2 separate regions of the Homo sapiens genome follow, and region 1 is linked to region 2. The links come from fine-mapping of genetic effects on gene expression. A gene starts in region 2. The other region holds a variant in brackets. All regions are shown on one strand. Distances are from middle to middle. Region 1 overlaps PRH1-TAS2R14 (PRH1-TAS2R14 readthrough). Region 2 holds the start of TAS2R14 (taste 2 receptor member 14).

Region 1 (5,393 bases), 210 kb before region 2:
ATCAATACAAAAATATTTTCACTGATATCTTTTTTCATTATTATTATACTTTAAGTTTTAGGGTACATGTGCACAATGTGCAGGTAAGTTACATATGTATACATGAGCCATGCTGGTGTGCTGCACCCATTAACTCGTCATTTAGCATTAGGTATATCTCCTAATGCTATCCCTTCCCCTTCCCCCAACCCCACAACTGTCCCCAGAATGTGATGTTCCCCTTCCTGTGTCCATGTGTTCTCATTGTTCAATTCCCACCTATGAGTGAGAACATGCAGTGTTTGGTTTTTTGTCCTTGCCATAGTTTACTGAGAATGATGATTTCCAATTTCATCCATGTCCCTACAGAGGACATGAACTCATCATTTTTTATGGCTGCTTAGTATTCCATGGTGTATATGTGCCACATTTTCTTAATCCAGTCTATCATTGTTGGACATTTGGATTGGTTCCAAGTCTTTGCTATTGTGAATAGTGCTGCAATAAACATACGTGTGCATGTGTCTTTATAGCAGCATGATTTATAGTCCTTTGGGTTTATACCCAGTAATGGGATGGCTGGGTCAAATGGTATTTCTAGCTCTAGATCCCTGAGGAATCGCCACACTGACTTCCACAATGGTTGAACTAGTTTACAGTCCCACCAACAGTGTAAAAGTGTTCCTATTTCTCCACATCCTCTCCAGCACCTGTTGTTTCCTGACTTTTTAGTGATTGCCATTCTAACTGGTGTGAGATGGTATCTCACTGTGGTTTTGATTTGCATTTCTCTGATGGCCAGTGATGATGAGCATTTTTTCATGTGTTTTTTGGCTGCATAAATGTCTTCTTTTGAGAAGTGTCTGTTCATGTCCTTTGCCCACTTTTTGATGGGGTTGTCTGTTTTTTTCTTGTAAATTTGTTTGAGTTCATTGTAGATTCTGGATATTAGCCCTTTGTCAGATGAGTAGGTTGCGAAAATTTTCTCCCATTCTGTAGGTTGCCTGTTCACTCTGATGGTAGTTTCTTTTGCTGTGCAGAAGCTCTTGAGTTTAATGAGATCCCATTTGTCAATTTTGTCTTTTGTTGCCATTGCTTTTGGTGTTTTAGACATGAAGTCCTTGCCCATGCCTATGTCCTGAATGGTAATGCCTAGGTTTTCTTCTAGGGTTTTTATGGTTTTAGGTCTAATGTTTAAGTCTTTAATCCATCTTGAATTAATTTTTGTATAAGGTGTAAGGAAGGGATCCAGTTTCAGCTTTCTACATATGGCTAGCCAGTTTTCCCAGCACCATTTATTAAATAGGGAATCCTTTCCCCATTGCTTGTTTTTCTCAGGTTTGTCAAAGATCAGATAGTTGTAGATATGCGGCGTTATTTCTGACGGCTCTGTTCTGTTCCATTGATCTATATCTCTGTTTTGGTACCAGTACCATGCTGTTTTGGTTACTGTAGCCTTGTAGTATAGTTTGAAGTCAGGTAGCGTGATGCCTCCAGCTTTGTTCTTTTGGCTTAGGATTGACTTGGCGAAAGCAAGAGCAAACACATTCAAAAGCTAGCAGAAGGCAAGAAATAACTAAAATCAGAGCAGAACTGAAGGAAATAGAGACACAAAGAACCTTTCAAAAAATTAATGAATCCAGGAGCTGGTTTTTTGAAAGGATCAACAAAATTGATAGACTGCTAGCAAGACTAATAAAGAAAAAAAGAGAGAAGAATCAAATAGACACAATAAAAAATAATAAAGGGGATATCACCACCGATCCCACAGAAATACAAACTACCATCAGAGAATACTACAAACACCTCTACGCAAATAAACTAGAAAATCTAGAAGAAATGGATAAATTCCTTGACACATACACTCTCCCAAGACTAAACCAGGAAGAAGTTGAGTCTCTGAATAGACCAATAACAGGATCTGAAATTGTGGCAATAATCAATAGCTTACCAACCAAAAAGAGTCCAGGACCAGATGGATTCACAGCCGAATTCTACCAGAGGTACAAGGAGGAACTGGTACCATTCCTTCTGAAACTATTCCAATCAATAGAAAAAGAGGGAATCCTCCCTAACTCATTTTATGAGGCCAGCATCATCCTGATACCAAAGCTGGGCAGAGACACAACCAAAAAGAGAATTTTAGACTAATATCCTTGATGAACATTGATGCAAAAATCCTCAATAAAATACTGGCAAACCGAATCCAGCAGCACATCAAAAAGCTTATCCACCATGATCAAGTGGGCTTCATCCCTGGGATGCAAGGCTGGTTCAATATATGCAAATCAATAAATGTAATCCAGCATATAAACAGAACCAAAGACAAAAACCACATGATTATCTCAATAGATGCAGAAAAGGCCTTTGACAAAATTCAACAACCTTCACGCTAAAAACTCTCAATAAATTAGGTATTGATGGGACGTATCTCAAAATAATAAGAGCTATCTATGACAGACCCACAGCCAATATCATACTGAATGGGCAAAAACTGGAAGCATTCCCTTTGAAAACTGGCACAAGACAGGGATGCCCTCTCTCACCACTCCTATTCAACATAGTGTTGGAAGTTGTGACCAGGGCAATGAGGCAGGAGAAGGAAATAAAGGGTATTCAATTAGGAAAAGAGGAAGTCAAATTGTCCCTGTTTGCAGACGACATGATTGTATATCTAGAAAATCCCATTGTCTCAGCCCAAAATCTCGTTAAGCTGATAAGCAACTTCAGCAAAGTCTCAGGATACAAAATCAATGTACAAAAATCACAAGCATTCTTATACACCAATAACAGACAAACAGAGAGCCAAATCATGAGTGAACTCCCATTCACAATTGCTTCAAAGAGAATAAAATACCTAGGAGTCCAACTTACAAGGGATGTGAAGGACCTCTTCAAGGAGAACTACAAACCACTGCTCAATGAAATAAAAGAGGATACAAACAAATGGAAGAACATTCCATGCTCATGGGTAGGAAGAATCAATATC[G/A]TGAAAATGGCCATACTGCCCAAGGTAATTTATAGATTCAATGCCATCCCCATCAAGCTAACAATGACTTTCTTCACAGAATTGGAAAACTACTTTAAAGTTCACTGATATCTTAAATAAGGCAGAAATGCTCTTTAACATCTGTAGAACTCAACATTGTTCTAGCACTTTTAGCTAATGTAATAGGACAAGCAATATAAACTCATCTAGGAACTGGAATGAGATAGACAAATTTACAGTATAATGATGTGATGATGTCACTGCTTAAATGAACACTCCTAAAGAATCAACAGGTACTATTAGCATAAGAAAAGATAACAAGGTTCTTCATATAACATCGATTTACCAAAAAACAGTGTATCTATTGCCAACAGTAAATTACAATATGTAAATTTAAAAAATTCTTTGGCCAGGTGTCATGGCTCATGTCTGTAATCCCAGCATGTTGGGAGGCCCAGGCAGGTGGATTCCTTGAGTCCAGGGGCTCGAGACCAGCCTGGGAAACCTGGTGAAACCCTGTCTCTACTAAAAATACAAAAATTAGCGGTGTGTGGTGGCACACACCTGTAGTCACAGCTACTCAGTAAGCTGAGGTGGGAGGATCTGATCTTGGGAGGCTGATGCTGCAGTGAGCCGAGATCGTGCCACTGCACTCCAGCCTGGGCAACTGGAGTGAGACATTGTTTCAAAAACAATACATGAAGAGATGTATCATGTTCATAGATAAACTGAGTATTATAAAATATAATTTCTTTCTAGATTAATATAGTCAATGCAAGTTGTGGCAAAGTCTTATTAAAGTTTTGTGAAAATTGTGAAAAATGACTTGAAAAATACATATAGAAAATTAACAGTTCGGAGATAGGCAAGAAAACTTGGAAAAAGAAGGAGGTAAGTTCTTTACTGGGTATCAAGATTTATTATAGTGTAATTATGAAAATTGAAAGAATTTTGGCACAGAAGGATGCAATAGACAACAAAAGGGAATAGTAAGGCAGAATATATTTAGGTAATTTACTTTTTGTGCACATGTAATTTGTCTTATAATAAGATTATCATTAGAAATTAGTAGATAAGATGTGTTTTTTGCAGTAAATTGTTTGGATAATGGACTTTTCATAAGGAGGAAAATCAGTGTGTAACTTGTATCACAAAAAATAGTCCAAAAGGACTAAGATCTAAACATTAAGAACAAAATTTAAAGCTAAGAAAAATGTAAATTATTTTATAAATTCAGGGTAGGTGAGGATTTTATCTGAAAGATACAAAAACCACGAAACATAAAGGAAAAGTTTGATAAGTTTTAAATTCCTTGGAAAGATCTGTTAATTAATCCAGCTAAGTTAGCTGTCTGACTCTAGTCTAATTATACATCTAGGCATTTGATAATGAATACAGAAAGAGTATTAAAACTAGGAATATATGGATGAAATTAAAAATACTCATTTTACCTAATAAAAAAATCATGTTCTTAGATGACATTCTCATTGTTGTGATGACATCAATTCTTGCCAAATTCAGGTATACATGTAAGATGTTAAGGCAAATATTGCCATTTTTTTTCTCATTTAGAGTAGTTTATTATGCTAAGGGCCTGGGAAACACTTTAGATTCAGTAAAAAAACTACCTAGAAGAATAAAGCAGAATGAATACTAGAAAAAGACTGAAAGAAAAAAAATGTGTAAAGACGCACAGAATGAGGAACATCTGTTGGTAAAATATATTATAAAAATACTAAAAAGGTATCCAGATAGTAAAAAGCTCAGAAACATGAAAAATCTCTTTCACTACTGGTAGAAGCATATAGTAGGATATAGTCAAAGCGAATTTAGCATAAAAATACATACACTTTATATCTATGTATCTATGTACACATACTTTTTGATATGCATGTATAACTACATATTTCTGAAACGTTTCTAAAAATAATCATAAAATGATTACAGATATGCAAAAACAGTTATAGAGCTATGTATAGTTTGTTAACATTAAGATAAAAGCCTTAACATTTTTTATGCTTAAAAACATTATAATGCTTCATTATAGCAGAATACACATTTGTCATTAAAAGAGATATAGAGCAGAATTTCTCAGAGTTCAGCAGAATATTCATAGTTGTTACAAAAAAAAAGTTCTTAATTTTTAAATATTTTAGGCAATGCTGGCTTAAGCGACTTTAACCTTTTTGTTTGTTTTTAAATCATAAGCTTTCTGTATACTCTGTTAGTATGTAAAAGGAAGTGCTCTATGTGGAGTTTCCCAAATTTCCTTTTCTGTGAAATCCTTTTCTGTTTTAGAAAATACCTTTTAATTCTAACATTTTCAGGAATTTAATTTGAGAAATTCTAATATTGAGGGATTATGTATCAGTGAGGAACAATTTCATTTTTTAGAACATGTAGACTGGGTATGGTGGCTCACACC
Region 2 (5,393 bases):
CACTGCCGGTGCCTCTTCATACTATCACAGCTGATGCTCTCTAGAAAGAACTACCTCCTGGTAGGAGGCCAACCACACAAAAATAGAGCATTAAACTCCCAAAGCTAAGAACCCTCACAGAGTCCATTTCACCCCCCTGCCACCTCCACCAGAACAGGTGCTGGTATCCACAGTTGAGAGACCAACAGATGGTTTACATCACAGGACTCTGTGCAGACAACCCCAATATCAGCCTGGAGCCTGGTGGACTTTCTTGGTGACTAGATCCAGAAGAGAGATAACAATTACTACAGCTCAGCTGTCAGGAAGCCACATCCATAGGAAAAAAGGGAGAATACTACATCAAAGAAACACCCTCTGGAACAAAAAAGTCTAAACAACAGCCTTCAGCCCTAGATCTTTTCTCTGATAGAGCCTACCCAAATGAGGAGGAGCCAGAAAACCAACTCTGGTAATATGACAAAACAAGGCTCTTTAACACTCCCCAAACATCACACTAGCTCACCAGCAATGGATCCAAACCAAGAAGAAATCCCTGATTTACCTGAAAAAAAATTCAGGAGGTTAGTTATTAAGCTAATCAGAAAGGCACCAGAGAAAAGTGAAGCCCAATGCAAGGAAATCCAAAAATATGATACAAGAAGTGAAGGGAGAAATATTCAAATAAATTTTAATAATAAATAATAAATTTTAATAATAAATAAATAATAAATTTTAATAATAAATAAATTCAAACATTTGATACAGTTAGTACATAAATTTTGATGCATAAAAAAGTTAAAATGAAACACACTAATCTGTTCTGTATACACCTAAATGTAACTTTGACACTGAAATGGATTAAGACACTGCTCTTCTCTGAGGAACTGAGTTTTTATTCTAATTTCTGGATGTAGTGTGTGGGAATTATTATTTTTGCTGCTCTTTTTCTGAAAAAGATTGCCTTTCCCTAAGAGCTGTTGTTCCAATGAAAACCTAGTGTTTTCAACCCAGCATGAATGATGCAAGTGCTGAGGTCCTTTGGGCGAGACCCTCTGGGGTTATTGTAGCTCTCACTGGAGACGTGAGCTCTGCTCTCTTTTCAAAGTATCCATGAAGTCTCAACAGAACCCACCACACAACCCCCCACCCACCATGGTAGTTTGTCTTTCTCTTTGTCTTCTTTCCCAACCTCATCTTTATTGCCTGGATATAGCGAGGCCAGGGTAACCTTCTTGTCTCTATGTGGATAGTACGTTTGTACTTCTAGCCTTGGGATTTTTCCTTAATATTTGTCCATGCTAGCTGAGTTTGCCTTTTCAATAGCTCTCTTGACTAAATATACGGTAATTTCCAAGATATTTTGGTTTTATTTTATTTTATTTTTGCTTAGCTTTGCTTCAGGGGACTGAAGGTGAGGGATCAGTTCTTCATAGTGGAACACCTTACATCTTTCTCTGCCATCTTTGACGTTTATGAGGCATATTTTTCTACTTTGTTTGGTAGCTGTTGCTGAATTTGTTTCATTGGTGCTTTGCTCACTTTACTTACTTTTTTAGCTATTGAAGAAGAATGACTGTATCATGCTGCTGATTTCCCCGTCTTGGCTAGACAGTATGTCATCCTTTATCTACATTGGTCCCTGTAGTGAGGATCATGGAGTAGATGTTGCTGGGAGAGTGAGTATATGTGAAAAAAATGTGAAGGTATTTGGTGCTGATGAAGCAATATGCCCTACTGGGCAGGGGAGAGGCACAGAATAAGAATTCTTGCCATGTGGATGAACTCATTCAAACACAATGACTGCTTTATGAGACAATAGATAGATTTCTACCTCTTCTCACATGTACAGAGAAAATATTTCCAAAGTCTCCGGAATATTTACATGTATTACTATTTAATATAAACTTGCAAGTCTTTTTAAATGTGTTTAAAACTATCACAGTACTAAACATGAACTAGATGCATAATAAATGCTGAAAGTAAAAAGCCTGAATTATTTAAGTGAAAAGAGAAAAAGATTTAGATCCCAAATAAATGTATGCGTTTGTGTGTTTGTGTGTGTGCGCGCATGTTTGCTGGGCATGTACTTGTAAAAAGTAAAATAATAGAAAAGTATTATTCTTGGTACCCAGCATTCTAGGAATAATGTCTTCCACAAGATTATTAGAAAACTCTGCTACTTTGTAGGAGGAGCTTTGGATAACTATGAATAAGTCCCTTTACAGACTTAACTTTAAAAAACCATCTGATTTTTCTTTATTTTCTTTATTTTTATTGTAAATTGACATATTTTACTTGCATACATTTATGAGGTATCAGGTGTTGTTATGATTTATGACTACTATGTGGAATAATTAAATGAAACTAATTAACGTATTCAAATGATAATAAATATAACAGATAACAGGTAACAAATATTTTTTTATGGTGAGAATATTTGAAAGTTACTTTTTCAGCAATTTTGTAATGTACAATACACTATTATTAACCATATTCACAATGCTGTTCAATAGATCTCAGAAAAGCAGAACAAAACTTATTCCTCTTGTCTAACTGAGGTTCTGTAAACTTTCACCATCATCTCCCCATTTTTCTCCACCCAAACACGGAAGTATGTAAAAATTCTCAGTGCTTACAAAGTTTCATATACCAATTTTTGTAATGATACTTCCCCAGAACTCAATTTGACAGACTGAAGTATGTAGATAAGACAAAAAAAAAAAAAAAAAACACACAAACCAATGAAAATAAATATGTCCTTATTTGCATGTTTACAAATGAGAATTCAGTGTTTCCTTTCTCACCAGCTACAAAAGACTTCAGCCTACTGTGTATAAGGCACACAGCATCTGGATGAAGCTCAGCTGAGCTGTCTGGGGAAATACAGAGATTTTTATGAAGAGAGCTTTAAACCCAGCCATTAGCAAATCTGGATGGTTGCTGGTTTAACATTCCCTTTTTAAAGGGAATATATTATTGAATTTTCAAGAATCAGATATACATAGCATTTTAGATGAATGCATTAAGAAGTCTTCAGCAGTGATATTAGACATTGGGGCATGCTCTTACAGGCAATGGGTGGTGTCATAAAGAGCATATTTACATTCGTTTTAATTGTGGAATTTATAATTGGAAATTTAGGAAATAGTTTCATAGCACTGGTGAACTGTATTGACTGGGTCAAGGGAAGAAAGATCTCTTCGGTTGATCGGATCCTCACTGCTTTGGCAATCTCTCGAATTAGCCTGGTTTGGTTAATATTCGGAAGCTGGTGTGTGTCTGTGTTTTTCCCAGCTTTATTTGCCACTGAAAAAATGTTCAGAATGCTTACTAATATCTGGACAGTGATCAATCATTTTAGTGTCTGGTTAGCTACAGGCCTCGGTACTTTTTATTTTCTCAAGATAGCCAATTTTTCTAACTCTATTTTTCTCTACCTAAAGTGGAGGGTTAAAAAGGTGGTTTTGGTGCTGCTTCTTGTGACTTCGGTCTTCTTGTTTTTAAATATTGCACTGATAAACATCCATATAAATGCCAGTATCAATGGATACAGAAGAAACAAGACTTGCAGTTCTGATTCAAGTAACTTTACACGATTTTCCAGTCTTATTGTATTAACCAGCACTGTGTTCATTTTCATACCCTTTACTTTGTCCCTGGCAATGTTTCTTCTCCTCATCTTCTCCATGTGGAAACATCGCAAGAAGATGCAGCACACTGTCAAAATATCCGGAGACGCCAGCACCAAAGCCCACAGAGGAGTTAAAAGTGTGATCACTTTCTTCCTACTCTATGCCATTTTCTCTCTGTCTTTTTTCATATCAGTTTGGACCTCTGAAAGGTTGGAGGAAAATCTAATTATTCTTTCCCAGGTGATGGGAATGGCTTATCCTTCATGTCACTCATGTGTTCTGATTCTTGGAAACAAGAAGCTGAGACAGGCCTCTCTGTCAGTGCTACTGTGGCTGAGGTACATGTTCAAAGATGGGGAGCCCTCAGGTCACAAAGAATTTAGAGAATCATCTTGAATATATTAGAAAAAAAATAGCTCCTAAGAAATTCTTGTATGTTATATAAATTTATACTTCCTTAAGATTCTTTCATTGTGTATAACTTTGTGAATTTTACAAAGATATGCTTGGAATCAACACCATCCAAACATATCACAAATTAGGATATATGAAAGTATGTATATTACCATACAGAGAAGAATGCGAATACTATAAAGAGTTCTTATACAAACAGATAATATAGATTTTGTATCAATCATTCACCTTTTTTGAGATTTTTAAATGAGAAAACCTATAATGTATAAAATACATGTGTGTATGTATGTATGTGACACAGTTACTAAAAATAGGCTTCTTAAACTTACATCTCAATCTGGTAGATAAAGTACATAAAAGAATATGGAATTTTAGTACCTATATTAAGTGTTTTTAATTTTTGTATAATATTTAGTACCTGATTAGCGTGTATGCAAAAAAGTAATTTGCTTCGTTTGTTGAATTAGAAGCCAGCTGCCTTACTAAACTACCACATTTGCTTTGCTCATTCTCTTGGCTTTGCAGATAGAAAATTATATCATCTGCATATAGTGACTTATAATGATTATTTTACTTCTCCATTTTACTACTTGTAATTCTTTTTTGGTATCAGTTGTATAATGAAATGGTTTGAACATTCAAAGTGTTAAGTAATCCTGATCGTAACTGCTGTCTTTGCAAATGGAGTGTTTTCTAGTGTTTTAACAATAAACGTAATACTGACTCTAGCTTTGAGATAAATTCTTTTAAAAATATTCTTCAGGGAGAATATTTGTTTCCTATCTTCCTGTGTATAGTATTGTAATAAAATCTCTGTTAAAAACTATCAAATTTTTTGCTGTTTATTAAGATGATCATATTTTCCCTCTCCTCTGACCAATTAAAATAATGATACTTGTTAATGGTGGTACATAAAACAATGACATGTCTTCTAGTCTATGCATTCTAGATTTAATAAAATACAATATACATATTCATACACACGCACGCACACACACACACAGAGAGAGAGAGAGAGAGAGAGAGAGAGAAATAAAATTGCAACCTTAGAGGCAAATGGGAATTCAGAAAGCAGCTGCAAGGTAGTGAGAGGTAATCTCCAAAAGGGGAAGATAATCCCAGTTTGAATAACATGAAAAATTGTGTCAAAGAACTGTATGCCAGAAGACAGTTGATTCATTTTTTCAAGGGCTAAGGAATGTAACCGTAATCCTGAATTCTTTGCTAAAAATTTGTTCTGGGGTTTGAATTAAATAATAACATTCCCCTCTCCCCTTAAAAAAAGATGAGGGCTGTTTACTAAACATACGTCCTTACTGAAAATGCTAATAACCAATCTGCTTCAGAAAGACTGTTATGGACTGA

Evidence for each region. PIP is the estimated chance that this variant, and not a neighbour inherited with it, causes the effect.
Region 1: its variant is the best candidate, but not a certain one, in a credible set for the expression of TAS2R14 in blood mononuclear cells (TOPMed, PIP 0.72).

The regions. Positions count from the first base shown.
Region 1 is chr12:11,145,470-11,150,862 of GRCh38, reverse strand. The region is part of intron 1 of PRH1-TAS2R14 (PRH1-TAS2R14 readthrough); the gene reads left to right. All of the region lies in intron 1 of PRH1-PRR4 (PRH1-PRR4 readthrough), which reads left to right. It also overlaps a transcript of PRH1 not described here. Among named protein-coding and RNA genes, the nearest start is that of TAS2R30, 14 kb to the right of the region's middle. The variant G/A (reference allele first, on the strand shown) is at 2,969.
Region 2 is chr12:10,936,871-10,942,263 of GRCh38, reverse strand. TAS2R14 (taste 2 receptor member 14) reads left to right here and starts at 3,001. Exons shown (of 1, transcript NM_023922.2): 1 at 3,001-4,854. The coding sequence starts at 3,057. The coding sequence ends at 4,010. PRH1-TAS2R14 (PRH1-TAS2R14 readthrough) reads left to right here. Exons shown (of 5, transcript NM_001316893.2): 5 at 3,687-4,854. The coding sequence ends at 4,010. All of the region lies in intron 4 of PRH1-PRR4 (PRH1-PRR4 readthrough), which reads left to right. It also overlaps a transcript of PRH1 not described here. RefSeq lists a silencer at 147-347 and an enhancer at 1-354.